2 separate regions of the Homo sapiens genome follow, and region 1 is linked to region 2. Evidence: fine-mapped expression QTL. A gene starts in region 2. The other region holds a variant in brackets. All regions are shown on one strand. Distances are from middle to middle. Region 1 holds the start of SUPT4H1 (SPT4 homolog, DSIF elongation factor subunit). Region 2 holds the start of TSPOAP1 (TSPO associated protein 1).

What was found. PIP is the estimated chance that this variant, and not a neighbour inherited with it, causes the effect.
Region 1: its variant is fine-mapped to the expression of TSPOAP1 in pancreas (GTEx, PIP above 0.99). The same link has a PIP of 0.9 or more in lung and prostate.

Annotation. Positions count from the first base shown.
Region 1 is chr17:58,343,814-58,359,184 of GRCh38, forward strand. It overlaps SUPT4H1 (SPT4 homolog, DSIF elongation factor subunit), which reads right to left and starts at 8,388. Exons shown (of 5, transcript NM_003168.3): 1 at 8,254-8,388; 2 at 7,589-7,695; 3 at 3,716-3,771; 4 at 3,375-3,428; 5 at 1,365-2,500. The coding sequence starts at 8,322. The coding sequence ends at 2,433. RNF43 (ring finger protein 43) reads right to left here. Exons shown (of 10, transcript NM_017763.6): 9 at 13,655-15,010; 10 at 9,863-11,173. The coding sequence ends at 11,130. It overlaps TSPOAP1-AS1 (TSPOAP1, SUPT4H1 and RNF43 antisense RNA 1), which reads left to right. Exons shown (of 5, transcript NR_038410.1): 4 at 7,931-8,101; 5 at 8,186-9,914. RefSeq lists enhancers at 405-934, 9,169-9,704 and silencers at 7,962-8,071, 8,352-8,781. The variant A/G (reference allele first, on the strand shown) is at 10,375.
Region 2 is chr17:58,317,068-58,332,383 of GRCh38, forward strand. It overlaps TSPOAP1 (TSPO associated protein 1), which reads right to left and starts at 11,728. Exons shown (of 32, transcript NM_004758.4): 1 at 10,521-11,728; 2 at 9,616-9,723; 3 at 9,226-9,354; 4 at 8,467-8,646; 5 at 7,744-7,935; 6 at 6,401-6,478; 7 at 6,231-6,314; 8 at 5,883-5,972; 9 at 5,587-5,709; 10 at 5,241-5,345; 11 at 3,464-3,514; 12 at 3,042-3,062; 13 at 2,023-2,227; 14 at 1,213-1,385. The coding sequence starts at 10,853. TSPOAP1-AS1 (TSPOAP1, SUPT4H1 and RNF43 antisense RNA 1) reads left to right here and starts at 8,383. Exons shown (of 5, transcript NR_038410.1): 1 at 8,383-8,661; 2 at 10,983-11,054. It overlaps MIR142HG (MIR142 host genes), which reads right to left. Exons shown (of 1, transcript NR_186557.1): 1 at 13,821-15,316. It overlaps MIR142 (microRNA 142), which reads right to left and starts at 14,251; the gene lies at 14,165-14,251. RefSeq lists silencers at 7,281-7,530, 7,651-7,720, 7,761-7,850, 10,111-10,170, 10,781-10,890 and enhancers at 7,988-8,536, 10,571-10,730, 11,601-11,670, 12,201-12,370, 12,471-12,550 and 2 more.

The sequences.
Region 1 (15,371 bases), 27 kb after region 2:
GCTGCATTATCAATGCACTGCCACTGAGCTCCTCAGTGTTCTGGGAGACCCTAATTCCACAGTATGTGGCAGGGAGGAAGCAGGGAATGAGGCAAGGGCAGGCAAGGGGAAGGCAGCCTGGCTACTATTCCTAGTCTCTGTCTGACTTGCATCTGTCCTTGTTGAGCTAGGGAGGAGGCTTGCTCTTCAGGAGAGAAGCCAAACTACTGAGCAAGACAAGGAGAGATCTTAAGATGCTATGCACTCAGAACTTCGGCAGCCAGGACGGGACTGAAACTCTGACAGACACAATGGGCCAATGGGGCAGGACATAGCTCTCATGGCTGCCCTCATAGCCATGGAAAGCAGGGCAGCAGTACCAGGACCGCCCACTCCCAGGGAGCTGTGAACCAAGTCCTTGTCTTAGTTTCTTTGGGTTCCCAGTAGAGGATGGGACTCCAGCACCTTTCTGCCTGTCTGGGTTGCTGAGTGGCACCACCTGCATGTTCAAGTACCAGAGAAAGCAAGAAAGCTAATTCAGCAGCAGCTCCCGGGGAGAGCCCACTTGGCACAGTCTGTAGAGTCCAGGAAGGAAAACAGGCCACCCTTCCCCCACAAGCATCAATGCCTATGCTATGTCTTTTGCTTCCTGTGAGACTGTCAGTTAGGGCCCAGTTCAGTGTAGGGCTGAGGCAGCCTGAATGTGGTTATTTGTGCAAGCTCCTCTTGCCTCCCCTCCCCACAACTGTTTCCATTCTCACCAAGCAGCCACGTCCGGGTCAGACACCCAGGACAGCAGCTGGGGCTTTCCAAGGGACTTTTTGAGAAGCTAGTGAAAGTTGGGTGTTGGCTGCACAGCCTGGGCACTTGCTGAAACGCACTTCTTCCATCCAGGACGTAAGCTCTAGCCTGGCAGGGTTGCTTTCAGGTTGAAATTGAACAGAAATCACCACCCACGGAGCTTTCTGTTTGCTGGGCTGGGGAAATCCTTGAGAAACTCAGTTTGGAGTTGGGGTTATCTGACCATTCCCTCAGAGCTTGAAGGCACCAGAGAAAATGGTTTTGGTTTGAAGACCATAGTGGACATGAGCAGCCCGGCCAGTCCCAGTTTCCCTCCCATAGGCCTATGTGAGGACAAGGAAGGGGAGTAGACAAACTAATCAGAGTCAGGTCGCATCTCTCCTCCTTCCCACACTCTCCAGGCCACAGGTAACAAGCAAAATCAACTCAAGAGCAACACCAGGTGGCTGAGACACAAAGCCCTAGCACAGGCAGCTCTGCCCTAGCACAGCACAGCTCACCCTGCAGTTGTGGTTCTCAGCATTTCCCCTACTATTTTGGCTGATTGTGCACATATTCTATGTATTGAAAAATGGCCCAAAAAGGAGAGCAAAAGTATTTCACCTTTATAATACTTATATAATTTTCACATAGCTTCGTTTCTACAATCACAACAATCCTGAGGTAAACAGGCAGGGTGCAATCATTCTCTTTTTAGAGGGAGAACAAGGAACTTAGGGAAATCAAAATGGGGATACGAACAGGATTTCTGTGGAAATTTAAATGAGAATTTGTGGTAAATTTTTTTATCCTAAAACAACTCACCTTGGCCGAAAAATGGGATGTTACCCAAGGTCCCCTACTAGGCCGGAGGAGAAAAGGACCTACCTCCTACAGGGGCACAAACAAGGGAGACTAGGACTCAATGGTCGCCCAAGGCCCAAGGGTCTCCAGTGAGTGCTTGAGACTGGCCTAAGGTATAGGAAGAGCCGTGAAGAGAAGAAAATAGACAAGCAGGGGAGGGAAGAATTATTAAACATGGTCAAGGAGCACTCTACAAAGCCTCAGGATTTCTTCAAGGGATACTGCTGTGCCAGGTCTCGAGGGCAGAAGGATACAAGTGTGAGACACCAGGGCCACCAAGTTGATGGGGTTACTGAGCCTCTGGATCAGCACCCTCCGATAGGAAGCAAGGAAGCACACTACAAAGGCTGCAATCCCAGAGGCTGAGACAGTCAAGAGGGAGTAGAAGGGCCTCTGCTGCTCTGGGAAGGTTCTTATAGGGCAAATAAGCTATTACTGTGCCTAAGAGAATGGAAGAGGGAGGCAAGGCAGGTGTCATGGCCTTCAGAACTTTCTCGAGGTTCATATTTATTGACATTTGACCTAGAGTCCTTGGCATGGGGAAGGCACAGACCTGGGCCACGGGTAGGAAAATCAGCATCCTACTCTCTCCTCAATTCCATCTGTTAATCCACCAACCCAAATCCCTCCCACCCCACCTGTAGTCCAAAGAAGATAAAATGATAAAATGATGTGCTGCTCTCTCAACAGTCAGCTGAGTCTGAATTGGAGGGTAGGAAGTATTTGAAGTTCTGTTCATTTAGTTCCAGAACAAGAAATAAGCAGAGGCAGGAGGTGGAGAGCAAAGATGCTGGCAGCCTTGCATCTTGCTAGGTCTTTATAGCTGTGTCTCTGGATTTGTAGGCCACTCCTCGACTTTTCAGCTCCCGCACGATTCCTGAAGCAGGAAAAGAAACAGTTCTGTGAGGTAAGATTCAGAAGGGTAAGATAGGCCACTCAGCTGCCACCTTGAGGGGGGTACTATAAGCAAACTGGAGTTCCTAGACTACTTATCAATCGTCTGCTTGGCCAGGCACGGTGGCTCATGCCTGCAATCTCAGCACTTTGGGAGGTCAAGGTGGATCACTTGAGGTCAGGAGTTCAAGACTAGCCTGGGCTACAGAGCAAGGCCCCATCTCTACAAAAAAATTTTAAAAATTAGCCAGGTGTAGTGGCTTGCACCTGTAGTGCCAGCTATTTGGGAGGCTGAGGCGGGAGGATCCCTTGAATCCATGAGTTCAAGGCTGCAGTGAGCTCTGATAATGCCACTATACTTCAGCCTGGGTGACAGAGACTCTGTCTCAAAAAAAAAAAAAAAAAAAAAGGTCCTGCTTAGTTGACTCATTACTAGTGAAGACCCAGGCAGGTATTCGGTAAGAATGAGAAGAAAAAGAGGGATACATGTAGTCATCAAAAGCAAAGGTTCTAAGCCAAGCACCTGTAGTCCCAGCTACTCAGGAGGCAGAGGTGGGAGGAGCACATGAGCCCAGGAGTTAGAGTCCAGCCTGGGCAACATAGTGAGACCTTGTCTCTAAAAAAAATAAAAAACAGAAACAGCAAAAATTCTGGAGCCAGAATGCCTGGATTCCAATCCTGGCTCCTCATTTACTACCTGGTGACCTCCAGCAAGTGATTTAACCTCTCTGTGCCTGGTTCCCCCCATCTGTAAAATGCTGAACCTCATAGAATGTGAGAATTGGCATTAATTCAGATAAAAAAACTTCCACAGAGCTTTACAGTAAATGAACATTGGCTGTTATGATTATTATTACCTTGGGGCAGGCGACCAGTGACTGACACCGCATATACACCTGGCTTAAAGTTACCTGAGAGAGAAGAAAAAAGATACAAGATTACAGTGAAGTTAGTTAAGACTCAAGATCAAATGGAAGCTTAAGCTAAAGAAGTGATGCAACTCCAAGAGAAGAGCTATTCCCTCTTTTGGCTACAAGTGTTAAATGACAAGGCACAGGACACTGCTTCCCTGTGTTTCCTACAACCCGATCTTTCCCACCCTGAGGTCACTCATCTTGCTGATTTGAGACTCCCTAATGGACCTGAGGAACAGTAACAACACTACAACTAAGCCAAAAGGAGACAGGCCAACACTTACTGACTCGCTGCCACTTGGAGACCCAGCTGTCCTCTGGACTCATCATCGCAATGATTCTAGGGAGGGAAAAGAAATGGAGAGTCAGCCTGAGCCTCCCTGGGCCTGAGCTCAATTCTGAGAGAGGAATCTAGGAAAAAGCCAAGTACCGAGTCTCCACTGGAAAGCTGGCAAAACTGCCTTCTGATGTTGGGATGAGGCTGACTCAAAGCTAGGACTGACAAAAGTTCTTCATTCTTATGTCCTTGGCCGGCCAGCCACAGGTCAGTTTCCATCCCCAAAAGATTATCTCACTCAGCTCACAAACATCCTTAGCCTAACATTCCCTAGAAAATGAGACGGCTTTAGGACAAGGGGTCCAATAGTTACAACTAACACAACTACAAGGGGTCTAGGGCCTAGTGCAAAGAGGAGGGTGAGTGAAAACAACGGATCCTCCTACTAGAAAGGAGTTCAACTTGGCTAAACTTTTCCTCTTAATGACCTATACATATGGGGACCCCTCTAATGACCTATACATGTGGGGTTCCCTTCTCAGAACCTCATCAGTAAGCTGAGACTCAAAGGTTGAGATAATACATGAAAAACACCTAGCACAAAGACTAGCACAGAGTAGGTGCTAAATAAGCATTAGCTCTCCTCATTATCCTAATAGTCCTTCCCAGGTAGCTGTGATTCCAGAGGAATGGTAAGGCTATTCAAGGGCTAGAAGATGCTGCTTGAGCAAGATGGGTAAGCATTTTTGTCATTCAACGCATTCAATCAAATGCTTACTGACTGCCTATTGTGTGGGTGTAAGCACTGACATTTGTTGACTGCCTCAATATGCCTCCCCTCTTCTCTCAGTAACAATCTTGGATTCTTATTTGAGAAGATTCCCTTCCCATCCAAATCCTACATTCTCAGCCATGCGCTGTTAAGTGGAACCGACCCTACCTCCAGGGGTGACAAGCAGAACACTAGCCCCCAGCCCTGCAGCCTGATGGGAGATAGGCATGTATGCAGGCCATCCTCCTGACCACAAGTATATTCTTCTCTGTCCTTTGCAATCTATCTTTTTAGCCTTAGGGTCCCTACAGCCCAACCTTATGATTTAACCTAAACAGAATTCCCACTGTTCTCCAAAAACATCCTGGTTTTTCCCATCCTAAGCCTTTGCTCTAGTCACTCCCTTTATTTGGAATGTTCTCTCTCTCTCTCACCTCAACTTCCTCAAAAATCCCAAACTTCTTGCCTTAAGAGGAAAGTACTACCTCTTCCAATTCTGGTTGAGGTCATCTAGCCCTCTTCCGATCTTTAATTTGCCCACTCTTTAAGACCTAATATGCACTAGAATTATACAAATAATTCCTACAACCTAACAACAAAAAAACCAAACTGAAGTCAAAAATGAGCAAAGGCCTTGAATAGGCATTTCTCCAAAGATATACAAATGGCTATAAGCACCTAAGAGGCTCAACATCACCATTCATTGGGGGAAATGGGACACCAAAGTCACACCCATCAGGATGGCTATTATTAATAAATAATTAAGTGTTGGTGAGGATGGGGAGAAATTAGAACCTTTGGGCACTGTTGGTGGGAATGGAAAATGGTGCAGTTGCTAAACAGTATGACAGTTCCTCAAAAAATTAAACACTGAACTATCATATGATCTAGCAATTTCACTTGTGGATATACAGATGATCCCTGACTTACCTTAGTTCAACTTATGATTTTTCAAATTTATGATTTTGCAAAAGTGACATGCATTCAATAGAAATCGTTTTCAAATTTTAAATTTTGTTCTTTTCCAGGCTAGCAATTCAGTACAATATTCTGTCATGATGCTGCGCAGCAGCCATGAGCCACAGCTTCTGGTCAGCCACAGTAACATAAGCGTTCTGAGCACATTTGAAGTAGGCTAACTTATTATATTCAGTAGGTTGGGTGTGTTAAATGCACTTTTGGCTTATATTTTCAACTTATGATGGGCTTATTAGGTTGTAACTCCTCGGAAGTTGAGGTGCATCTGTACTGAAAATAATGAAAAGCAGGGACTTGAACACATATTTGTATACCAATGTTCACAGCAGTATTATTCACAAATAGCCAAAAGGGAGAAACAACCCAAGATATCATTGATGAATGAATGGGCAGCAGAACATGCTATACACATACAAGGGAATATTATTCAGCTCAAAAGAGGAGGGAAATTCTGTTGCATACTACAATATGAATGAACCTTGAAGACATTATGTTGGTGAAAGAAGCTAAAAAATGCTACTGAATGAGCCCATAGGTACCTAAGGGTGCCTAAGGTGGCCAAATTCATAGAGACAAAGCATGGTGGTTGTCAGGGACAGGAGGGAGGAGAGAACGAGGAGCTAGTGTTTAATGGGTACAGATGAAAAAAGTTCTGGAGATGGATGGTGGTGACGGTTGCACAACAGTGAGTATGCACTAATGCCACTGAATTGTGTATTTAGAAATGGCGACCGGGCACAGTGGCTCATGCCTGTAATCCCAGCACTTTGTGAGGCTGAGACGGGAGGATCACCTGAGGTCAGGAGTTCGAGACCAGCCTGGCCAGCATGGCAAAACCCTGTCTCTACTAAAAAAAGTACAAAAATTAGCTGGGCGTGGTGGTGGGCGCCTGTAATCCCAGCTACTCAGGAGGCTGAGGTAGGAGGCGGAGGTTGCAGTGAGCTGAGATCGTGCCATTGCAGCCGGGCGCTGTGGCTCACTCCTGTAATCCCAGCACTTTGGGAGGCCGAGGCGGGTGGATCACGAGGTCAGCAGTTCAAGACCAGTCTGACCAACATGGTGAAACCCCGTCTCTACTAAAAATACAAAAATTAGCTGGGTATGGTGGCAGGTGCCTGTAATCCCAGCTACTCAGGAGGCTGAGGCAGAGAACTGCTTGAACCTGGGAGGCGGAGGTTGCAGTGAGCCGAGATTGCGCCACTGCACTCCAGCCTGGGCGACAGAGCGAGACTCCATCTCAAATAAATAAATAAATAAATAAATAAGTAAAATGGCTAAAATGGGCCGGGCATGGTGACTCATACTTGTAATCCCAGCACTATGAGAGGCCGAGGTGGGCAGATCACCTGAGGTCAGGAGTTTGAGACCAGCCTGGCCAACATGGTGAAACCCCGTCTCTACTAAAGATATAAAAATTAGCTGGGAGTGGTGGTGGGTGCCTGTAATCCCAGCTACTCAAGAGGCTGAGGCAGGAGAATTGCTTGAACCCAGGAGGCAGAGGTTGCAGTGAGCCGAGACTGCACCATTGCACTCCAGCATGAGTGGCAAGGGCGAAAAGTCTGTCCAAAAAAAAAAAAAAAAAAAAAGCAACAGCTTTTGGGCAATGATCTACCATTACTACACCTCCCTTCCCTTCATTTTCAAAAAAAATTTTCATGCATTTAACAAACATTATTAAGATTACATTCTTTCTTCTCATGTTAAGTCTTTGAAATCTGGGGTATATTTTATACTTAAAAGCATGTCTTAATTTGGACTAGACACATTTCAAGTGCTCAGTAGCTACACGTGGATAGTGGTCACTGTATTAGATGCATAGCACTAGTATGTCCCAAAATAACTGTTGAGGCTGGACACAGTGGCTTACACCTATAATCCCAGCACTCTGGGAGGTTGAAGTCAGAGGATCATTCCACGCTGCAGTGAGCTATGATCATGCCACTGCACTCCAGCCTGAGCCACAGAGCAAAACCCTGATTCAAAAAAAAAAAAAAAAAAAAAAACCCACACAAAATAACCCCCAAAAACGAATGGCTGGGCCCAACTAGGATTAACACTTGCCCTGCATTTACTTCTCTGGGTGCAGGTTGGGTAATGCAGAAGTGAATGATGGAAACTGAAGCGGCTTACCCATCAAAGGAAGAGCTAGTGCAGTCATATACCATCTCTCGGTTACCCTTCATTTGTAGATATGCATCACAATTGTCACAACCATCATATTCAAACTGGTCTATAGTCTGGGAGTGAAAGAAAAATAAAGGAAAAGGAGAGATAAGCATGAACAAGACCAAGAGAAAAAGTAGCTTTCTCAATACTTCGACCTGCTCAATTTCTTGTTTCCCTATGTTGACTGTGTATCCTAAGGTTCCCCACCTACTACTCTCAAAGCTTCATTCCTAAGTCCCACCCTCCCACTCCTTCCTCTCTCGTTCCCAATTCCGTTTTATCTATTCCTTTCTCTAGTCTACTCAGGGTCAGGCATCCTTTCCGACTACTCACTCAGCAGCGGATCCCCACCCGCCTCTGACTCCCAGTGTCTTTCGGCTCCAACGTAAGTTCACCGAACGTCTAAGAGCTGAGGATTCAAAGGCATGTAAGACCGCCCCTGCCCTCAGCTGCAAGACCTGTCCGCGATCCTACGAGGTAAACGATGGCCTCCTTCGGCTTCTCACTCCCCCTGCCACCTCTGAGTTCTGAGACTTAACTTTTCTCTTTACTGTCCCACAGCCCCATTCCGCCCTCTTTCCCCGACCTTGGTCCCCCATGGGCCCTACAACCAGGTCCCCGACTGACACCTTGACCAGCGAACACAGCAAACAGGCCCGCAGATGCCGCAGGTCCTTCGGCACCGTCTCCAGGGCCATCTTCGCCGATGGGAAGAACAACAGGGAGATAGACGACCACAGCCTGTGCACCCGCAGGAAGTAAATAGCTCGTTACCCAGAATGCCCACCACTTCCGGCGCTTAGACTTCCTCTTCCGGTGTGGGCGGACGCCAGCTCCGCCCCTACCCCCGCCAGAGGAGATGGTTTCTCCCGCCAGCAGGCGGGGAGGCTGGGCGGCCGGCCGCCACCTGGGCCGGAGCGCGTCGCAGCCACCTGAGCCCGCCGAGGGCGCGGCGGAGGCTGTGTGGGGTAGTCAGCGGGCCCCCGGGGCGGGGGGGCGGCTGCGCTTGCGCGGGAGTGTGTCGGGCTGAGCCGCAGCGCCGAGACGCGGGCTGTTTGATCTGGGCTGGTGGCCCTGGGCGTCGGTCCTGTTCCCCGATGGTAACCCGAAGTTTGTTTTTTTTTGTTTTGTCTCCCCGTTTTAGAAGCATTGGGGGCAGTGAATCCACTGTCTCCCTCTGGATTGTCTCTGCAGAGACCGAGAAGAAATCCAGGGACAGCCCCACCCCTCCTTCCTAACTGCGAGAGCGCTATAGGGTTTCCACTTGCTTCCCACAGGAATGCTGGCCTGGGAGCTACGGCGGAAAAAAATGCGTATTTATCTTTTAAAACTCCGTCTGTTTGCTCGTTCCGGCTGATAATTTATACTTTGCGCAGTTCTTAGCGCTTAGACACGGTTCCTTTACTAAAGACCATTTGTAGGAGATTAGGTGTCCTTTTTTTCCCTTTCATTTCACCGTCTAGGAAGCGAAATGCCTTGTTCTATAGGCACTAAACCACCACCCCTACCAAACCTTTCTCGGGGAAGCAGAAGGGGAACTTGTGCCTTGTGAGGAAGCGACAAAGGCCCCTTCTGGCCCTGGAGACTTCACGCCAATGGAGCACCAGCTCTCTGTCCTCGCAATAGCCCGAGTGCAGGCAGAACGCAGTCATTTGTGTTTATCTGAGAGGAGCTTTGGGATATAAATAGTTTCAGGCCCCGCTGCGCTGTCATTCCAGCCCAGCCTCCTGATTGAGCTGCTTCCGGGCGGGCTTTCTTCTTGTTGGCGGTCCCATGCTGTGTTCAGATGGGCTCTGTGACAGGTTTGGATGTTTTCTATCACTGAATAAAACTTTCCACTTTGGAACATATTTTCTACACTCTATTATCTCATGTAAGTCCTGCAACAACTATTAAGTAGGCCCATTTTATGGACTGAAAAAGCGAGGCACAGAGTATTTGCCCAAGGTCTGAGTCACTGAAGTATGATAATGTGTGAAGTGAACAGTATAATAATAATGACTGAAGCACAGTAAGAATCCAGTCATGCTTTCTCCTTCCCTGATCTCACTAAGCCACACTTTTAGGGGCTTACAAACCAGTTCTTATTGCCAAGCCCTCTACTCTACCCTATCCTTTCATGAATCGGAGCCTAGCCTCTGATAACATAAATAATTTACTTCTCTTGATGTAGAAAGAGATGACGTTGTTACCCTGAGTGACAGTCACGACAGAACAAAACCACAAGACCAGACCACATTTGTGGATAAATATATTAGCAAATAAATATATTTCTTAACATAGTGCCTGATTCAAGCGTCTGTCTGGTTCAGATATAAATACCCATGTGGGTACCTAGGTGCTAGTCTCCCCACTAACTGAGGGAAAAAGGTTCCCAGGTGGGGTCCTCTGCCCACTTTGCCACCACATTCACATTCCAAATGGGATAATGCCTGAGGGGCCAAGAGTGGTCAGGCTGCCCTGGGGTGAATGTCACCCTGATGAGGCCCATCAGCTCTTGTCCACTCAGTGAGGCCAGACTTGTGCTCTAATCCACTCTCCTGTGGGTCCCTGGCCTGTATGGCTTATACTGGGGAGCTGGGCCTCTGGGCTGTCCAAACCCAAGGGTCACACTTTGCTTTTCCTTTGTTGTCCCCATTTTCCATCCTTGCTCTAAGACAAAACTTTTCCCAGAGAAGAACTCTTTGTTGTCCCCGCTCAGCTGTAATTCTGCCTTTTCTACCTTCATTCCATCCTTCCTCTGCCCAGAT[A/G]AAGTCCAGCAGAAATTCCTCCTTTCTACCTCTCTGGGACTCTGAGACAGGAAATCTTCAAGGAGGAGTTTTTCCCTCCCCACTATTCTTATTCTCAACCCCCAGAGGAACCAAGGCTGCTGTACCCACCTCAGGGACAGAACTCCACACTATAGTGGGAAAGCTTCAGGGACCCCTCCTTTTAGTGCTCAGGGCTCACCTATGCTACTGGTCCTTTTGGCAAAAAAGGAAAATGATAGAGCCAGGGTTGCCCCTGATGTAGCAGCCTTACTGTGGAGGGGCCAAAGCTGGTGTTCAGAGCTCACCCAAGGAGGGAGGTGATAAGGTGTCATGCGTTCTGCTGAACCCACTGGCTGGTATGAACATGAGGCTTGGGGTGAGGGAAACCAAGTAGGGGTTGGAGAAGGAGCAGCACCTTTGTAACACCTGGCTACCCATAGCTAGCTTTCTGCCCTCAAAAACTCAGCCTTCAAGGGATCCAGCCCACACACGCCACAGGCAGCAGCTGGTTGCCTGGCTGGACATGGATTTGCTGCACTGCAGATGTTTTCTGCAGACAAGGTCTGGAGCTGGAGCAGGAAACGGCACCCTCTCACCCTCCACCATCACCAGTCCTCTTCCAGTGCTTCTAGGAAGTACGGCAAAAAGAATGGTGTTTGCTGTGGTCCTTTCCTTTCCCAGGAGCAGGACTCTGTGCCAGGTAGGGCCCAAACACATCTGGAGCACACTCTTGGTTGGAGCTAGGCCTGAACATCTCACACAGCCTGTTCACACAGCTCCTCGAGTTCCTCCTCTGAGCCTGTATTTAGAGAGCGGGGAGGAAAGAGGTCATTGAGGGTCAGGCCAGGGACCTGCTTCTCTCGCCTGCAGCAGAGTGTGGCTGAGAGGGGACCACAGGGAGGGAGAAGCAGAGACTGTCTGGAAAGGGTGGTTAGATTGAAAGCTAAGGGGGCCCCAGTTGGGACACAGGGGAGAGAAAAACAAATCTAAAGAAATATATATAGCAACCAGTGTGTTACCAATACTTACTATTCATTTATTCACCCAATAAATATTAAGGATTCGTTGTGAATTTGGTCTGCTACCACGTGCCAAATAGAAGACCAAAAAGAATAAGCAGGGACCTGGTAACCTTTTTGGAGAGAAAGTATGAAAACAAATGGCCATTACGCCAGTGGGACAGGACAGGAGTCACGAGAGATGCATTAAGGAAGGAGAGAGACCAGGTCCAAGTGCAGCAATCAGGAAAAGCTTCCTGGAAGTGGGGATAAATGAGCTGATTCTGTAGGAATAGGTAAGAATTAGATTTATGGGAATAGAGAAGGCAGGAGAATATTCTGGGCTACAGGAACTACAAGAATTGTTTACCCAGTTTGGCTAAAGCATGGGCCTGGGGAAGGGAGGGAAGAGAATAGAAAATAAGGTTGAGAAGGAAGATGGGGGCTGGCTGGTGCAGGAACCTTTGAGGCCAAAGCAGGTTGGATTTTTCCTCTCTGTGGACAAACAGAACATTTGAAGATTTCTGGACAGTTTAGTGTAAGGCAGATGACGCTGGCAGCAATAGGGAGGGTAGGTGAGCAGTGGAGCTGTGGTGCACAACTTTATGGGACATACTGGATGGGCAGCACTCAGCCTTCGAGGCCCTGTAAGAGGGAAGGGAAGAGCTAGGAGGCTCCTGCATGGATCTTTAGGGTATACCTAAGACACTGGCAGGGCCATCAGTACTGGACTTGAAAAGAACATGATAAAGCTAGCCAAGATACAGTTAACAGAATCTGGCACTGATTAGATGTGAAAGGCAAGAAAAAGAGAGGCACTGAAACTAGTTCTGAGTTTGAGAGAAAAGGGAGATAGTGGTGTGGTACTGGCAGCACTCAAAGTACACACACAATAGGGTCCGAATGGAATCACAAACACATAGCCAAAGCTTGCAGTACATGGCTCTCTCCCCATGGACCTGGATGTCCTGATTGGCAAGTTCCATGTCTTCAGAGCCTAGCCTGGAACCTAGCACAAAGCAGGCATATAGTCAGAAGGAAAAAAAGGAAGGAAGGAGAAAGGAAATGAATAAATGAATGAATTGGATGAGGGCAGCTCCTAGGTCCTGCAGGAAGAATTCCTACACTGAAGAATATTTCAGGACCTTTGTGTCACCTCCTGGGTTGGAAGGGTTCTAGTGATGGCTGTAGACAAAGAACTGTGTCATCCATACAATGGGGGAAGATGGGGAAGAGTAGAAGGTGGAAGGTCCTGAATGGAAAAGAGAGATATGTGGGCAAGTAAACACCATGTTAAAGTTGAGAATTTACGTGATCACTGCTTATGATATAGGGATGCACTGAATCCCCAAGAAATTAAGGTCAGTCTTATTAATAATGATGTGTTGAAGGGAAGTCCTCCTTGTTCTTTTACCACAGGGGAAGAGAAGAAAACCTAAGGCTCCACAGGGCTGCTGGGAACCACCTGTGGTTTCTCTCTCTCTCTTTTTTCTCGTTGTTCACATAGCTCTTCTTATATAGCCTCGTATTATGGTTATGTGTAATTATTTCTACTATAGCTCCCCCCGAGGAACACTTCTTAGCCTTCTTTGTATTTAGAACTAATACTGAGCTGTGAGCATTGGTAGAACTAAACCAGTTATTAAAATTTAGAAACACTTATGTTTGAGCTACTACCCCGGGGACCATTCCAAATGCCTCTTTTTTTTTTTTTTTTTTTTTTTTTGAGATGGAGTCTCACCCTGTTACCCAGGCTGGAGTGCAGTGGCGCCATCTTGGCTCACTGCAACTTCCGCCTCTTAGGTTCACGCGATTCTCCTGCCTCAGCCTCCTGAGTAGCTGGGATTATAAGTGCCCGCCACCATACCCGGCTAATTTTTGTATTTTTAGTAGAGATAGGGTTTCACCATGTTGGCCAGGTTGGTCTTGAACTCCTGGCCTCAAGGGATCCACCCACCTAGGCCTCCCAAAGTTCTGGGATTACAGGCATGAGCCATCACACCCGGCCTTCCAAGTGCCTTTCTGATGCCTCAGCCACACCAGCACCTCCCTGGGACCTCCCTGTGATCTGCCAACTAAAGGGGTAGCACCTGGCAGAGGTGGGGTGTTCCTGCACTCTAGCCAGCATGATACGCTGTCCCGATGGTTAAGTATTTTGGTTGTCATCTCTGCTGTATCCTTCTCAGCTTCCATCAACCCTTTGTTGGCTGACTTCACCTGTCCTGAAATATTCAGCTGTAGTCTCCTCTCCCTACCACACCCACTTCCCTCTGAAAACTCACCAGGCTGGGCCGACAGCACCTGGCAGTGCGGATAAGGGCATGGCCTGCCCTCTGCGGTGTCAGAACTCCATTCAGAAGGCCCCTCCCCAGGTGGATGTGGTTCCAGGGGCTGGCGAGGAGTCAGGCACAACCACACTGGCTGTGAATTTGAGTAACAGGGGCCTGGGGTTTCTGGTAGCAGCCTCTTGTCCAGGCCTGGAGGTCCACAGATCAAGGGGTGTGCCTCTGGGGACCAAGGATATGCCACACTGGGGGTGTAATGGGGAAAAATCTGGCAAGCTGGGTGCACAGTTGCATCCTGGGGCCGAGAGCCAGGGGTGGGCTCGGAGGGACCCCCCCGCCTTTTCCTCTGTGGGTGTCGGGCAGAGAGGCTGGATTTTTGCAAGTTGAACAGACTGCTGGTACTGGGGCAGATGCTGGAGGCGTCAACTGGGCCAGGGGCTGGCTCAGGGAGGGCCCTGGGGCACTGTGGGTTAGAGAGCCGCCCCGAAGGGGCTGCTGAGTTGGATCTGGTGACTTGCTGATCAGGAGAAGGTGGCTCTGGCTGGGGCTGTGTCCGAGGAATAGGAGGCCTGGACTGGGGGACTCCGGTTTCTGGGCCAGGCTTCCTGCCATGCCACTGGAACCGCTTTTTGTAGTGGTGGTGCCGGTGGCGGTGGTAGTGGACATGGCTGGAAACCTGGGTTTCCCCTGTGGGCACCACCGAGTCCAAGGAACGAGGCCGAGAGGTCACACTAGGCTGCATGTCCACTCGCTGGGGATCCCCTTTAGGGCTGCAGTACACTAGGGGGTCAAAGTCACTGCTTAGGGAGCTGCAGAAAGTAGAACTGCTGCCATGGACCCCCTGTAGGCTGATGTCCGTGCAGTTGACCACAGAGTCACTGGAAGAGCCATGACAGGGCCCTGAGCTGGAGTCACTGGCTGGCCCATCTGCCAGGTACCCACTGCGTTCTGTGCAATAGCTTTCTCCAGATCCACTGCTGTCAGGGGGCCTGGCCCGGCGTAGGGGCACTGGGCAAGCAGCAGGGTGCTGTGAGGTGGATTGGAGGTGGCTCAGTCCCCAGCCTTGTGCATAGGGGTGCTGGGCTCCTGCCAGGCGCTGCTGCTCTCCTGGAGCCCGGGGATGTGCAGCTCTGGGGAAGCGGTGATGCCGAGGGCCCATGCCTGGCTCCTGGGATGGCAGGAAGGGACCAGGTCGTGGGGGCCGAGCCACTGCACTCCGGGAAGGGCCCAACAGGTAGGCAGCAGGGAGGTGGTAGTGGGCATGGCCGGGATGCTGGCGAATGAGGTGGAGTCTTCGACCTGGTTCTTGGTAAGATCGAGAGGGTCCCAGGGACTGGGAAAATGAATCTCCCTCTGGAAAAAAGAACCAAGAGCACAGATGTTTAACTCTACAAACCTACAGAGAATGCATTCAGAAAGACATGGCTGTAGCTAATCTATTTGACCCTGAGTAGCCTGTGAGCTCAGAGTTTGGGGGATCAAGGACGTGCCTAAGCTGCCTGTGCTCTGGGACTCCTTTGTTCCCTCCAGTCAGGTTGCCTGCCCTGGGAGGGCCACTATGCGTGTCAATCCCTAAACCTCCCCTCAGCCATTTGGAGCTCTTTCACCCAGGGCCACTGTTAGCCCATAGGGCACCTGTGGGTACCTTAGAAAAAGGTTCTCTTTCCTCAAGATATTTATTTCACTTTCATCTTTTAGAAAATTATGTTAACAT
Region 2 (15,316 bases):
TGCCTGTGGTCCCAGCTACTTGGGAGGCGGAGGTAGGAGGATTGCTTGAGCCCAGGAGGCAGAGGTTGCAGTGAGCTGAGATTGCGCCACTGCACTGCAGCCTGGGGGATAGAGCGAGGCCCTGTCTAAAAACAAACAAACAAACAAACAAAAACAAAGAAAAAAGAAACCCCTCAGCAAAGCACCCCAACTGTAAATCGCTGGAAGCAAGGAGGCAGAAAGGAGGCAGAAGGAGCTTGAGGGGTCCCTGCTTCTAGCCGAGTGACAGTGTGTCTGCTGTTCAGCTCTGGAACTCAGAACTTCCCGTCTACTTGCCCGGCCCACAGCCCAGGGCACCGCAACCTCAGGGCACCCCAATTCTCTGACCCTTGTTGAGGTTGCTGGGGTAGCCTGGGGAACAGGCTGTCTTCTCTTCTCTGCCAATGCCTGGGAGAAGGGGACCAAGTGGGCAACCTCTCCACAACCACATCCAAAGCTGGCACCATCCTTCTATCCCACGAGGGGGCAATAGAGGCCCAGGGCTTCGTTCTACCACTTTCTGAATGTTTGGCTCTCAGAGCTGCTTCTGACCTGCCTCCTCCACCTTCTGGGGTTTGTGGGTAGAAAGAAGGATGAGTTGACGACCAGAGCTATGAGTGATGCCCAGGAGCTTAGTAATAATAACAGCTGCCCCGTGTTGAGCACACATCCTGTGTGCCCCACACTGAGACAGGCAGGTTCCGTATTCATTTAACTCTCACAACAACCTTAGAAGGCAGGTTTTATTAGCTCCAAGATTCAGATAAGGAAACAGAAGCCCAGAAAGGCTCAGTGACTTGCCTAAGGCAAAGCTGGGATTTGAATCCTGGAACATGTGCTTTCTCATACAACCACCTGCTTTCACTACAGATGCTCTTAGGAACAGTCTCATTATGCAGATCCTGGTGCCCAAGTGTCTCCTCCATCCAGCCCAGCACTCCAGAGCCTCCCTGGGCCTCCCAGGGGTGGGCTGGGGTGGCCCCAGGTGGGGCTTGCAGGCAGGCAGTGGAGGGCAGGAAGGGCTCCACCTGAGCGCCTCGCCCACAGGAGGAATCCACAGGCCTCCCACCTCCCAACTTGGGACCCCAGAAGTTGCCACCCAACTCCTGGGGACCCCAGAAGAGGTCAGGGCCACCTGCCCTGCACCCTTCCCCAAGCCAAAGCCAGAACTTCAGGCCCCACCCCAGCAATTACCTCAGGTGTAGGGCATGACTTGGGGCTGTTGTGGATGGACTCGGAGTGGGAGGAGTTGGAGAGAGACTCTGCCTTCTTGGCTGTCCTTCGAGGGACCCCAGTGAGAGTGGCAGGGGCAGGCTCGGAAGACTTTGGGGTGCAGCGCCCAGGGGAGCCCGGCGGGAGGTCAAGGTCTAAAGAGAAGATGGCACGTGGGCTTGGGGTCTGTGGCCTGAGGAGGGACCAGGAGATAGGGTGGTGCTTCTTGGATATGGGGACCAGGCCCTCCATAGCCGGGCTTCCTTACAAAAAGGGAAATATTTAGAGAGAAACTTACTAAATAGAGGTATAGCTGATTTACAAATACTATTTCACATGATCGTCAAAACAGCTTGATGAGATGCATTTAATTATTCCTGTCTTACAGCTTACGAAACTATGGCCCAGAGAGGTTAAGCAGCATTCTCAAATCACAGTGACTGTCAAGTGAGTGGAGCTGGGACCACCGGATCCGACTGACCCCCAAGCCCCCACTCTGCACAAGGCCACACTGCCTGCTACTGACTCCTAGTGCCCAACCCCTAGGTCTGACCATTCAGGTCCTTTTGGAAGGAGAGGAGCAGTGGCCCACGATGCCTGGGCCAGACTCTGGGACAGTCACTCCCCTGGGCTTTATTTTTCCCCAACAGAACGTGGTTCTAGCCAGGCACAGCTCTAACCTGCTGTGTGACTTTGGATGAGTTGCTGGCCTTCTCTGATCCTGAACTCCCTGCTCTATCCAAAAGCCCAGGCCTGGGGATTCCAGGCCAATGCCACTGGGGTCCACCTTACCTTTGGGGCCAGACCCCCGGCAAGGCTGGGGAATGGAGCAGCAGCAGGGGGGTGGTGGGCAGTCTCCAAGGCTCCCACAGTCCAGGGCAGATGTGAGCAGATCCAAGGGGCCCGGGTGCAGGCGGAAAGCCTGGAGTTCCTGTGCCAGGAGGCTGAACTGCTCGGTTTGGCTGCGGCACTGTTCTTCGAGCTCTCGAACCCGGGCCTGGGCCAAGACCCACCATGAGCCGCCAGGCCCCTCAAAGCTACCCAGTGCCAGCCCGTGCCATCTGTACACAGCCCTACACTGGGTTTCAGGTCATATCCATCCACCCAGCCCCAGGCCTGGGCACCAGCCTTGCCTTGGCCACCCCACTGTCCTTAATGCATCAGAGCGGAGGGTGAAGTCCTGGGCTGTGTCCTGGGACATCTTCACCCCAGCCCCCTCCAGAGCCAAGGCCGGGGCCTGCCACACACTCACCAACCCTCAGGCCCTAGGCGATGGCACCTCTGCCTCTGGCTGCTTTCTAGGCCAACAGGGATCATTCCCACCCCATCATCACCACCATCACCGCAGGAGTTTTCTCAGCTCCACTGCTCATCACCCTCCCACAATCAGCAACTCAAACCCGTTCCCTGAGAGAGGCGGGCAGGAAATTCCACAGGGGAGCCAGGGATGTCTTCGTGATGGGAATGGGCCAATGCCCGGGAAGTTTTCTCAGGTCTGAGGAGAGTCCCAATAGCAGGGGCTCTCTCCGGCCACTATGGCGAGGCTCCTAAGTTAGACTGGTGATGAACTTCCTCATGATCAGGGTGGCTAGAGAGGGGAGGCCCAGTGTCTGACAGACACGGCGGCAGGCCTGGGACAAGGGGACAGCCGCACGTGTCCTGTGGGAACTCCACCCCCTATGGATTCTCATGCCTGCTCCCAGTGACACCCCCTCTGCTGGATGAGAGAGGGGGACTGCCTGGGCCCTGAGGGAGGAGATGCAACTCAGCCAGCCTGGAGAGGTGTGGGGAAGTGGAGAACGAGGCGCTACCTGCATGGAATCCAAGGTAGACTGTTGCAGGAAAGGAAGCAGAGAACAGGTTAGAACCCTGAGCGCTGTGGGTTGCTAACCCAGAGAGGGAGGCGGAGAAGGGGGCCTAAGTGGATATCATCCAGTCAGCTCCCTGGACTGACTAGCAGTTCCTAAATGGAAGGATATCTCAGGGTGAAGGCAGCCTCTGGGGGTGGCAGCAATGGGAGACTGCTGCCACCAGACTTGGGAGCCCCCTGCCCAGCCGTGCCCACCCTGAGAAATAGGCCAGTGGTGGAGGGGACTCCCCCAGGTCCTGGAGCATTTAAGGGCCCCTCCTGCAACCCCTCTCCCCACCGCCATAGTCCATTTCAGCTCTATCTGGAGGACCCCCGCCTTCCTCCCAAGATGGTGGAACTGGGGGCCACTTCCAGGCGCCCTACCTCCAGCAGCTGCACGGCTCCTTCATGTTCCCTCTGGGCTTCAGCCTGGGCCTACAGGTGGGGGGAACCAAAATACTGGAGGGAAGGAGAAGGAATGGGGTGGAGTAGAGAGGGCTGCGAGGGAGGAAGGGTAGAAAGGACAGAGGCAGGGGAGGAAGAAGCCGGGAGAAAGAAAAGGGTAGGGAGAGAGGGAAGAGGGATAGGGAAGGGGGAGGCCGAAGGGTTTCTCCCTCCTGAACACCCACCCTGAACCATACCTTAGACCAGAAGGCAAAGGGGACCAGGAGAAGCGTGGCTGAGTCAGCTCCCCTCTTTCCTGAGCAACCATCCTCCCAGTTTCCCCCCTACCTCTCTGGATGCTCCTTCTCAGCCTCTTTTGCCTGCTCCCTGTCCCCCATTTTGAATGTTAGGGTTACCCTGGACCCAGTGCTGGGCCCAGTTTATATTGTCTACTCTCTTCCTAGGGCTCCCATCTACTCATACAACTAAACACACTGGTGGCTCCAAATATCTCCAAGACCAACTTACCCATAACCCCAGGCTCATGTATCCAAGTGCCTGTGGACAGCTCCCCTTGAATGTTTAACGCGCAGCTCAGACATGGCCCAAATGGAACTCAGCACTCGGGATGACCTACCTCTCAGATCTGCTGCCCCTTCATCCTTCACCTCACGGAGTATGAAGAGCCCCACCCTCCACCAAGGTTTATACAGCAAATGGCTGTCAGAGAAGGGATTCAACTGGAATCCCACGGGGATCCTTGTCAATTCTTTTTTTTTTTTTTTGAGATGGAGTCTCGCTCTGTCGCCCAGGCTGGAGTGCAATGGTACGATCTCAGCTCACTGCAAGCTCTGCCTCCCGGGTTCAAACAATTCTCCTGCCTCAGCCTCCTGAGTAGCTGGGACTACAGGGGCCCGCCACCATGTCAGGTTAATTTTTGTATTTTTGGTAGAGACGGGGATTCACCATATTGGCCAGGCTGGCCTCGAACTCCTGACCTCAACTGATCCACCCACCTTGGCCTCCCAAAGTGCTGGGATGACAGGCATGAGCCACCATGCCCGGCCAGAACCTTGTCAGTTCTATCTCTAAAACATAACTCAAACCCAGGCACTTGTCTCCCGTTCCACTGCATGCATCTCTGTCCAGACAGCCACCATCTCCCTCCCAGGCCACCGCCCAGGCCCTGCTCCACGCCTGCTCCCACAGTCCACCCTCCATAATACCAGCCATGTGATCCTGTAAAATTATGACTCAGATCATGTCACTCCCCCACTTAGGATCTTTCAGGAGCTTCTATCTACTCACAGAGCAAAATACCCAAACTCTTCCCATGGCCGTTAAGGCCCGACAGGATCGGGTTCTTGTCTACTCCCACCACGCTGCCCATCCCTTGCTGTATTCTAGCCACATTGGTCTCAGGCTTCTTCAGCTCTTCCCTGCCACAGAGCATGTGCATGTCTACACCTCCTGGCTGGCAAGGTCAATTGTCACCTCCTCAGGGAGGCCTTCCCTGATGACCTCTAAAGTGGCTCCTCACCCCATCCCAGTCACTTTGTCACATCACCCTGTTCTTCTCCACCACTGTGCTCATCAGTGTCTGAAATCAGCTCACTCCTGGATGCTAATTTGCTGACTGCTCAGGGACCTGGTCTTTGTTCCCCACAGTCTCCCCGACGCCTAGCACAGTGCCGGGCACACAGTAAATGCTTGTGGAATGAGTGAGTGGCAAAGCTGGTGTCCAGCAGCCTGCCAGCTTCCCTCACTGCCGCCCCACCTGCTGCAGTCTCCGGACCTCCTCCTGCTTCTCCCGTAGGCTGAGCCGAGCCTGTTCATGCTCCACCTCCAGCTGCTGCCGCCGCTGGGCCACCTCCCGCATGTGCTGAAACACAAGATCTGAGTCAAGGCCAGAGCCCCTACTTGGCCATTTCTAGAGAAGATCTAAGATGAGGAAGCCTCAAACACCATTTGCTCCAGATTCCTCTATTACAAAGGAAACTGAGCCTGGAGCAGCTCCAGGCCCAGGCCTCAGAGCTAGTGCCCCTCACTAAGAATATTCTGCTGTCCCACTTGCTCCCCATGCCAGGGCCCAGCACCCTCTCCCACCTGCACCATCTCCTCACCTTCAGCACTTGCTCCAGGCTCTCCAGCTTGCTCTGCAGGCCCTGGCTCTTGCGAAGGGCTGAGTCCCTCTCCTGTGTCACCCCCAGGAGCTGGCCCCTCAGCTCCGCATTCTCCCACTCCACCTGGCGAGGGGGCAGTGACAGGGAGTTGGGTGGGTGAGCCTTGACCCACCAGCACCCTCACAGGGGGAACAGTACCCTACCCCTGCTCAGGGGTGGAGGAGAAAGCCCCTTGGCTGGGGACCGGGGCAGTGGTGGGAGCACAGGTCTCCACAGCACCTGGGCGGAAGTGGTACCTGCTCCTTCTCTGTGGCTCTCCCACTGAGCCGGGAGTTCTCCTCCACCAGGCGGGCATTCTCATTCTGCGCTTGTCTCAGCTGCAGTTCCTGAGCGGGCAGAGGAGCTCTCAGGAGGGAGCCCAGCACCCACATTCCCCCTCTCCCCACACAGAGGACCCTGCCCTCCTCCCAGGCAAGGCCTTCCTCCCCTGCTGGAACCTGCACCAGCCAGGAAAGGAAAGGAGCAGGAGGGAAAATGTGTTCTTGAGGGCAGCAGGGGTGGGAGCAGAGCTGAGAGGGAGCCCACCACCTGGCTGGCCGGGGTGAAGGGAGGAGCTGGCCTCTGGGTTGCCCTCAAGAGCTCACCAGCTCCTCACATCGCCTCTGCTTTTTCCGGGCTTCCTGCTCCAGGCTCTCGCATTTCTTCCGCTTCTTGCTGAGCTCCGATTCCTGAGGGGTCAGAACCAAGTGCTCCTCATGAGGGAAGGTACATCTGCCCACAGCAGGCTGCCTCCAGCCCTTGACCTAGGACTTACCAGCTGCTGCACCCTCTGCTCTTTCTCTGGCTCCCCTAGAATCACGGGTAGGTTGTCCGCATCCTCCTGGGGCGTGGCCTGGAAATGCCCAGGGGCAAGGGGCTGGCACCTGAGAACAGGGCCCCAGGGCAGCCTGCCCCAGCCCAGCCTGCCCAGAGCAGGTTCCCACCCCATCATTCAGCCAGCAAGAGATCCCTGCCTAGCAAGAGCAAAGAGGGGTACTGTCTGCCCACCCACCTCCCATTGTCTCCAGCTGATGTGTAAGTACAAAGGCTGCACCCCTGTGTCCTGGAGCCATAAGTGCTTTGAGATCCTGGGACCCACGTGTGCCCTGGGAGATGGGTCCTTTATCCAGGCCAAAGCTTTCCCTTTTTAGCTTCCAGCAGCAGCCCTGCTCTGCACTCAATAACTGTCCTGGGTGTCCTTCAGCGACTGGCAGAGAACTAGGAGGCTGCCTGGGCCCCCGGGGATGTGGTGTTCCCCAAGATAGGGGTTCTGTATCATCCAAATCTGGGCTTGGCCTAGAGCAGCGCAAGTCCAGCCAGACCCTTCTCCTGGCTTCCCCCAAGCCCACCCTACCACACCTTCCGATTATCCGTGCAAACTTTGGGGGAGGACAGGTCTTGATGGGAGGGTGCATCTCCCTTCCAGGGCCAGCCAGGGAGACAAAATCTGAGCAAGAAGCCTCCCCCCACCCGGAGGTCTTGGTCACTATCAGATCACTGCCTGGTCTCTCCTCCCAGCCCTCTTCCCAGAAGGAGGAGGACCTACTTGCTGCCTACCTAGGATGATGGCGAGAAGCCAGACCCTTAAGTTCTGGGGGTCCTAAGCGGGTCCCTGGCCCTCGAGACAGGGGCTGCCTAAGCCCCCCGCTCAGTGAGGGTTGCCTGTACCTGGAGCCGGGGCGGACGCACCGCCGCCCCCGGGTAGCTGGGGCCAGGCCTGGCCAGCCAGGCGGGCGCTGACGGGGGCGTCCCCGCTCTACGGCGGCGGCGGGAGGAGGCGGCGCGGGCTGGGCCCCGGGCGGCTGCCAGGACAACCAGGGATTTGCGGCCGGGCCGTACCACTGGCAGCGCGGCAGGGGCGGCCGGCCAGGCCCCGCTGGGCGCAGGCCTATGGAGGGCGGAACCCTGGAGCCCCCAGGGGAGGGCACGGCGCAGGTACGAGCACGGGAGGCTTGGAGGTGGACCCTGCCCAGGACGGGAAAGCTCCCCAGCCCCTGGGAGTGCGCACACCACCACTGAGTCCTTGGGGTTCTGAGCACGGTGCAGGGGAGATCCCGGTGGTCGTTCCCCCCACCCATCTGCACGCACCCACACACCTGCCCTTGCGCCGGCGCTCACCTCTCCCGGGGCCCCGGGAGCAGGCGCCCCTGCTCTGGCCTGGAGAGCAGGGCCCGGGGGCCAGGACGGCGGGAGCGGGAGCGTCTCCCGCTGGTTGCGCAGCGCGATCTGCCTCTGCAGCCGCAGCACCTCCCGCTGGGACTCGCGCAGCAGCCGATCGAAGTCCCGCACGTGGAGCCACTGGGGACCCTCCTGAGGTTGGGGGACAGGGACAGGGAGGGGACTCAGGCCTAATCCTTGCCCGCCCCATGCCATCCCCTGCAGAGCCCTTCGCCTTGCTGGAGGGGCTCCGATGCGCGAGACTGTGCACACCCTCCCATGGGTACATGCCTGGTTACATGTGCATGCGTATGTGGCCACATGCTCCCGCGAGCCCCTATGCGGTCATTCTCAGTAACTTATTTCTTGGGTGCTCTCAATGTGCCCAGCACTGTGCTAAATACCTTGTGAACATCCCTTCACACAGGGGATGTGTGGATGCATACAGCCAGACCCACCGGCAAACAGCCTCAAGCCTGGAGCACAGAAATGCCCAGGTCTGGGACTCATGGCTCCACCCCCTTCTCCCCTCTCCCACCTGGGCCGTTGCCAGGGGAACCTACTCCCAGCAACCTCCACCCTCCCTTTCATTTGCGTCTCATTAACATCTTGTCTGCATCCCACAACAGGCAGATGGCCCTGTGCAGGGCTGAGCTGGAAGAGGTGACCAGGGCCTCCTCGCACCTTGCCCACCAGAGTGAGCCTGGCCTGCAGCTCCCTGCACTCCCGCTGCAAGGCAGCAATCTGCTTGTCCTTGGCCAGCAGTGCACTGGCTGTCTCACTGAGGTCCCGGGCTCGCTGGCGGGCTAGGGCCTTCCGACACAACTCCAAGCTGGTCCCCGGCCGGGGCAAGGGGGCACTCACCTAGCCAGAGGAGGGGTAAGGCCAATGGTCACCTGAGGGCTGGGGCACTTCTCCCACTCCTCATCTCCTCCCAAAGGAGGAGTTAGCATGAAAACCTAGGGGGGTAGCCACCTGCTTCCACCTTGACTGGGGTCTCAGAAAACCAGCAGCCTCACTCTACCCCATCCCAGCAGTTGGAAAGGATTAACTCTACATCTGAGTTTAGGATCAAAGGATGCTGCTAATTTGGGGCTGCCACTGTGATGGGTCTCATCCCTGCCCCCACTCCAGCTCTATACCCTGAGATGAGCTCAGCAGAAGGCTGCCGCCAGCACCAGCACGTGGTAATCCAGAATCCTGCTCCCTGCCTGCTCAGGAACCTCCCCATCCAGCTCTTCTCTGCCCCCTGCAGCTCCAGAAACCTTTGGCCTCCTTGCCTGGCCAGCCTCTGCCCTTCCTGCACCTTAGCCCCTAGATTCTTGCTTTCCTAGGTGCTGAGCTGAGACCGTGACTCCCAAGCTTCAGACAGCCCTCAGGCCCAGCCCTGGCTCCCCTCTTCCTTGGTCACCCAGCCTCCGCCCAGCAGCCTCCTTTCCTCACCACCCTCAGGTTCGTTTCCTGCAGCTTTCGGGCCCTCTCCTCCAGGCGCTTGGCAATGACCGCCAGCTCGGCGTTCTTCCTCTTCAGCCTCCGCACCTTCTCTTCTGTCTCAGGGAAGCTGCTCTTCCTCTGACAAGGGGTCAGGCAGAATTGGGGCATGTAGGGAGCACCCCACAGACCCAGTCCTAACAGCCCAAGTCTTGGGCTAGAGCCCTAGGCTCACAGTGGGGTCCTTGGCAACTCTAGGCAGGGGTTCACCCTCTCTGGGTCTCAGGATTTTGTCACCTCCATTGAGCCCCCACTTGGAAAGATGTTCATGGGGTGAGGAGGGCACTGAGGCAGAGGGCCTGGCTCCAGCCAGAACGCAGCACCCCAGTCTCCAAGCCTCACCAGCATCTGGTTTTCCTCCTTAAGGATGGCACAGCGCTGCCGCAGCTCCCCCAGGGCCCTCAGCAGCTCCAGATTGGGCCTGTCCCCAAAGCTCATATTCAGCTTGGCCTGGCATGGGAAAGGACCGAGGACAGCACCTCAGAAACCCACGTCACCCAGCCAGAGCCTTCCCTGTGGAAGCATCCACCATCCATGGTCCAAGGAGACATGGAGATGAAACGGTTTCCCCTATGTCCCAGGCCTTCAGAGAGGAGCAGAGGAGGCCTAGGAGAAGGAACTGTCCAGTCCTCCCTGTCCACATAGACACCCCCAAACCTGGCACCCTCCTGCTCCTCCCTGATCCTTCCCATTCCTACCCATCTTCTCCTCCAGGGACATGCGAGCTCGAGCTCCCACTCCCATCCCTCCAGACTCCCCTGCCCTCCCCCAAAGTCCTGTTCCTTCCCTCTTCTACAGGAGCCTGCTCACACCCACCCCAACCCTGCCTCAGCCCAGCACCAAGCCCCCTCCCCTCAATCTACTTCCTCTGCACTGATTCTCTGTGCACCTCCACACTCCCCCTGTATCCCCCAGCCCCTAAGGACAGACAGACTCATGGAAGAAGAGACACAGACAGACACACTGTCAGGAGGAGGCACAGAGAGGGACGGGGCAGCAGCAGGGCCAGATCTAGACAGACAGGCAAAGAGGGTCAGAAGGACAGACAAATGACGAAAGAAATGGAGCCCCTCAGATTTCTGCTCGATGAAGAGAGGACAGATAGCCACAGAGATGGACCCACAGACAGGCCAAGAGAGGACAGGTGGGCATTGGGGATGCATACCTCGCCTCACCTCCTGGCCAGGCTGGAGGACATGGTGAGAGACCCCCACCTTGCAGACCCCAGCCCTCCACAGATCCCTTACCTTCAGGAAAGCCTCCACTTCCTCATCCTCTGGCCTCTGGCAGGCGGGTCCAGAGCTGGATGCTTGCTGGCCCAGGCTGGGCAGACAAGCCTCTGCTCCTTCAGGGTCAGTTCCCCCCACGGGCCTGGAGCTCCCGTCTCCTTTGGGCTTGGAACTCTCCTCAGACCTCAGTTCTTGAAGCTGCAGAGCTGCCGGAGGAGTATCAGCGATGCTTGGGGCTGCACTGCTAGGTTCACCCCCTCGACCTGGAGTCCAGCTATGCCAGGTGGGCAGTGCCCATGGCTCCATGGCTCCAGGGTCCCCAGGCCGTGGGAGGGTTGTCAGTTGCTCCATGGTACTGCCAAGGGGCCCCAGAACCCGGGCCGGGGGACATCACCCAGCCAGGTGGGGGGACTGGCGAGGGTCATGCCAGGCCAGCCCCTCTCCCCTCTGAGCTCTTGCTTCACCGACGCTCCATCCAAGGTTGGCTGAGCTCTTCCCCACCCACAAAGGAGGCTGCAGAAGGCGCCAGGGCTGCTGGAGCTGGAGCCAGGGGTATGTGAGCTATGTTTGCTGGTAGCTGTGTGTGTGCGCGAGTATGTGGAGGAGCGAGGGTGTCCCTGTGGGGGTAGGGAGGATGTGCAGAGGCCACCGACAGCTGCGCCTGGGTGAGGGTGCGTGTGTGTGTCTCCAGGTCTGTCCGTGCAGGTCAATGCTGTCTCATGTGTTGGGAAGATGGGTGCCCCCACTTCTGTGTGTTGAGGGGGGTGGTGCTGTGTGTCACTGTCTGCCCATTTCAGAGTTGCCAGTTGTTTGTGTGTGTGTGTGTGGGTGTCTGTATTGCAGGGCTGTGGCAGTATGTGATGCTGTCCCTGGTTGTATCTGAGTGTGTCAGTGTCGTGCAGCTGTGTGCATCGGTGTCGTTGTGTGTCTGTCAGTGTCTGTGGGTCTGGCCGTCTGTCGCAACCCCTCAGCCCGGCCAGAGGCTTCAGGAGCTGCTGGGGGTGATCCCCAGTGGTCCGCTGTGGTCCTTTATCTCCGGCTCTGCTCTCTGCTGCTGCTCTTTCGCTTGCTGGGTGGCTGGGCTGGTCCTAAGGAGGCCTGGGTCGATGGGCTGCTTGCCTCATAGTCTCAGCCCCTGCTGGCCTCTGCTCTGGGGACTGCAGGGGTCCCTTACAGTCCAGGAGCCTCGAGATGGTGGGCTCCGAGGAGGGCTGAGCCTCAGAATTGGGTGGGGGGGTGAGCCGGGAAGAGCCAGCCCTCCCCTCCTCCTCCTCCTCCTCCCCTCCCACCCACCAATAGGAAGTCGGCTGCTGGTTTCCATGGTGATGGCGCTGGACTGGTGGGCTGAACCGGCTGACAGGGTCGGGGACAGAAGGAAGAGCAGGTTTCTCACGGCATGTCAGCCCAGGGCTCCCACATGTGGCCTCCCACCCTCATCTTCACACATTCTCACACCTTCCGGAGTACAGAGGCGAGTGGGGTGCAGATGGTCCTCCCTACATCGGGTGAGACTGATAGAGACAGAACGGGGGAGGGTATGACAGAGATCCAGCCACAGAGAAGGGCAGAACTAGAAAAGATGGGACTTGAGATGAAACAAAGAGAGAGACAGAAACCAAGAGAAAGAAACCGGGAAGACAAGCAAAGAGACAGGTAGAAATAGACGGAGAATTCCTTCTGCTTCCTCCTGGCAGATTGCACTTGGGGGGCAACCTGGCTGTCCCAGGCCACCAGGGAAGCCCACATGGCCTGTTGGGTTGGCTTTGTCCCGAATTGCCTGGAAGTTCATCTTCTGTCTAGCCTTAGATCTTGTTGCTAAATAATTTGGGGGACAAGGACGTGAGAATCCCCTCAGCCAGGAGTCAGTCTATATGCAGTGGCAGGGGTCTAGACAGAGTCCCCAGAGCCAGGGGTGTTGGGAGAAGCCCCGAGAGGCAGCCCCTCTCCACTCTGAACCCGGGACTCATTAGGCAAGCCAGTTTCAGCCAAGGTCGGGGGCCCTCGTGTGGCACCCCCACAGAATAGCAGCGGTGATACTGAACCCTAGAGCCCCTGACTGTGGGCTCCACCCAGGCAAGAGCCAATGGAACTGGAGGTAGGGGGTGCATGGGGAGGAGTGGACATCTTCACTTCCCTAAAGCAGTGTGTAGGTCAACACGCACGCCACTGCATGATGTGTTGCTGTTTAGGTCAGAGTATATATGCATGCCATTATGCGCATGCGTGTGTATAGTATGCATCTATAGAATAGACATTATCTATTTCTGTATATGTGAAGGGGCCATTGTGTGTATATATGTGTGTGCTATTATGTGTCTATGAGTCACATAATAAAACGTAACAAAAACACATTGGGTGTATCTGTATGTATGTTTCTGTGTCATTGCATCTATGTTTGTTTGCCACTGTGTCTATGTGTGTGCTGTTATGTGCATGGGAGGCTATCATTGCATGAGTTTATAAATTACAACACATCATGATATATATAGATATGGATGCTACTATATGGCACAATGTAGTAATTGATTACACAATATATGACATGCTCATATCGTCATGTAAATATGCATAATGACATGGTTTGATTTATATATATATATCACCATGTATCTATGTATTCTATATTTATCATGATATATGAACATGTCTCTATCTATGTATGTGTATGGAGCCACCGTGTTTATTATGCAAATGTCACTGTATGTGTGTGCTCTTCTATGTGTAAGACACGCCCTATGTTTCTATCATTGCATGTGTGTACTACTGAATATGTATGTGCCCTGGGTGTGTGTAATCCCTGTGTGTGTCATGCCAGTCATGTCACATGTGTCTGTGTGTGTGTTACTGGCACACTGAATGGGGCCTCTGTGTGTAAATGCATTTGCATCTCAGTGTGTGCTTTGTATATGAGTGTCTGTGCCCTTGTCTAAGATGCTGTGTATGTGCCACAGTGGATTTTGCCCAATTTTTATATGACCTAGGACCCCCTAGACTTTCTTAGATTAAAACTGGATGTAGGCAGCTTTCAGTTTGGGTATGTAGGGGGGCAGGATAGGGCCAGAGCTAGGGTAGAAGGTGAGAGGATGCCTTACATCCCTGCCCCTTTCTGCAGATGGCCCAGGCCCTTCTCTCCTCCGGCTGTGGCCTGGCCAGGCCCAGAGCCCTCTTCTGATCTCATAGGCAGGGCCAAACCCGTATCTTCTGGAGGAGCGACAGAGGTTCTCCCTCCCAGCCCTTCTGTGCGCCCATACTGTCCATGTGCCTGCCGCCCGCATTCAGCTCCCCACCCCAGCAACAGAGTCTCAGACAAAAGAGAAGCACAGTCCAGTCTTTATTAGCATTGGGTCCCTGGTCCCACCACCCATTCCCCTCCACGTACCATCCCTTCCCACCCCTTCCTCGTCCTTGACGCTGCGGCTGCATCAGGGTTCCACATGTCCAGCCCTCCCCGCCCCCAAAGACTGCAGGGCAGCAGAGGAGCTGCTGTGGCCTTTCCCCAGCTGTCCGGAACCAGGAAGGGCAGGAAAGCCATGGAGGCCTTTCAGGCATCTGGGCAGGGTAGGGAGGGGCCGTAAGGTGCTCACCTGTCACACGAGGTCCCCGAGCGCCGAGGAAGATGGTGGCGGGCAGCGGGCGGCAGCAGTGGCGTGATCTCCGAAGCCCACAGTACACTCATCCATAAAGTAGGAAACACTACACCCTCCAGTGCTGTTAGTAGTGCTTTCTACTTTATGGGTGACTGCACTGTCTGTCTGTCCGTCGGCGTGTACTCTTCAGGCTGCCCAGGCCTCCTGACTCCTGCTCCAAGAGCCCCCCAGCCCTCCTTGTGGCTTCCTAAGATCCCCCCAACCCTGCCAGGGCCCCCCGAGGGCCCGCCCTGGGCCTTGTGGGCGGTGACTCAGCATGGCGCCAGACTTGCCTCCTCTACCTCCCTCCCCCACTTCCTCTTCAGTTCCCTCTTCCCTTCCCCCTAAAGGCTCCACCCCATCCCCCCAGTTTCAGAGACACTCAGGTAGAGACTAGGGCCTCTGGAGGCCTCACCTTCAGTTCTGTGAACCCCTGGCTGGCCGCTTCCAGCCACGCTAGCCACCCTCCAGCGTCCAAATGAGGCAGCCACAGCTCCCCTGCCAAGGTCTTGGTCTCCAGTCCACCCCAACCGTGAGGTCCTGACTGCCCAGAGCCTCAGTCCCCACCCTTCAGCCTCCCCACCAGCCCAAGATCCTGACCCCCCAGGGCCTAAGTCCCCAGCCTCCCCAACAGCCCAGGGTCCTGACCCCCCAGGGCCTCAGGCCCTGGCCTCCCCACCAGCCCAAGGTCTTGAACACACCAGGGCCTCAATTCCCAGCCTCCCCACCAGCTCAAGGTCCTGACTCCCCCAGAGCCTCAGTCCCAGCCTCCATAGCAGCCCAAGGTCCTGACCCCCCAGGGCCTCAGTCCCCAGCCACTCCACCAGCCCCAAAGTCCTGACTCCCCAGAGCCTTGATTCTCGGCCTCCCCACCAGCCCAAAGTCCTGACTCCCTCACTGCCCTGCTGTTCCCCTGGCAGGAGCCCAAGGCTATCCCAACAAAAATGGTGGCCATGTTGGGCGGAGGAAGAGGCTGGCGCCCCTTGAGACACTGGTCCCACTTCTCAGCCTCTGCGTACCCTCTGCCATCCCCGCCTTACTCTCCAGCCCTCCTCCTTGGACACCTCTTTCCCCGCCTGGGGTCCCGGAGCCATTTTACCTTCCTTCACTAGAGAGGGTTTCAAGGCGCTTTGCCCTGAGCTTCCCGCATGGGGCTTGCACCCAAGCTCCTCGACACCCCCAACGCGC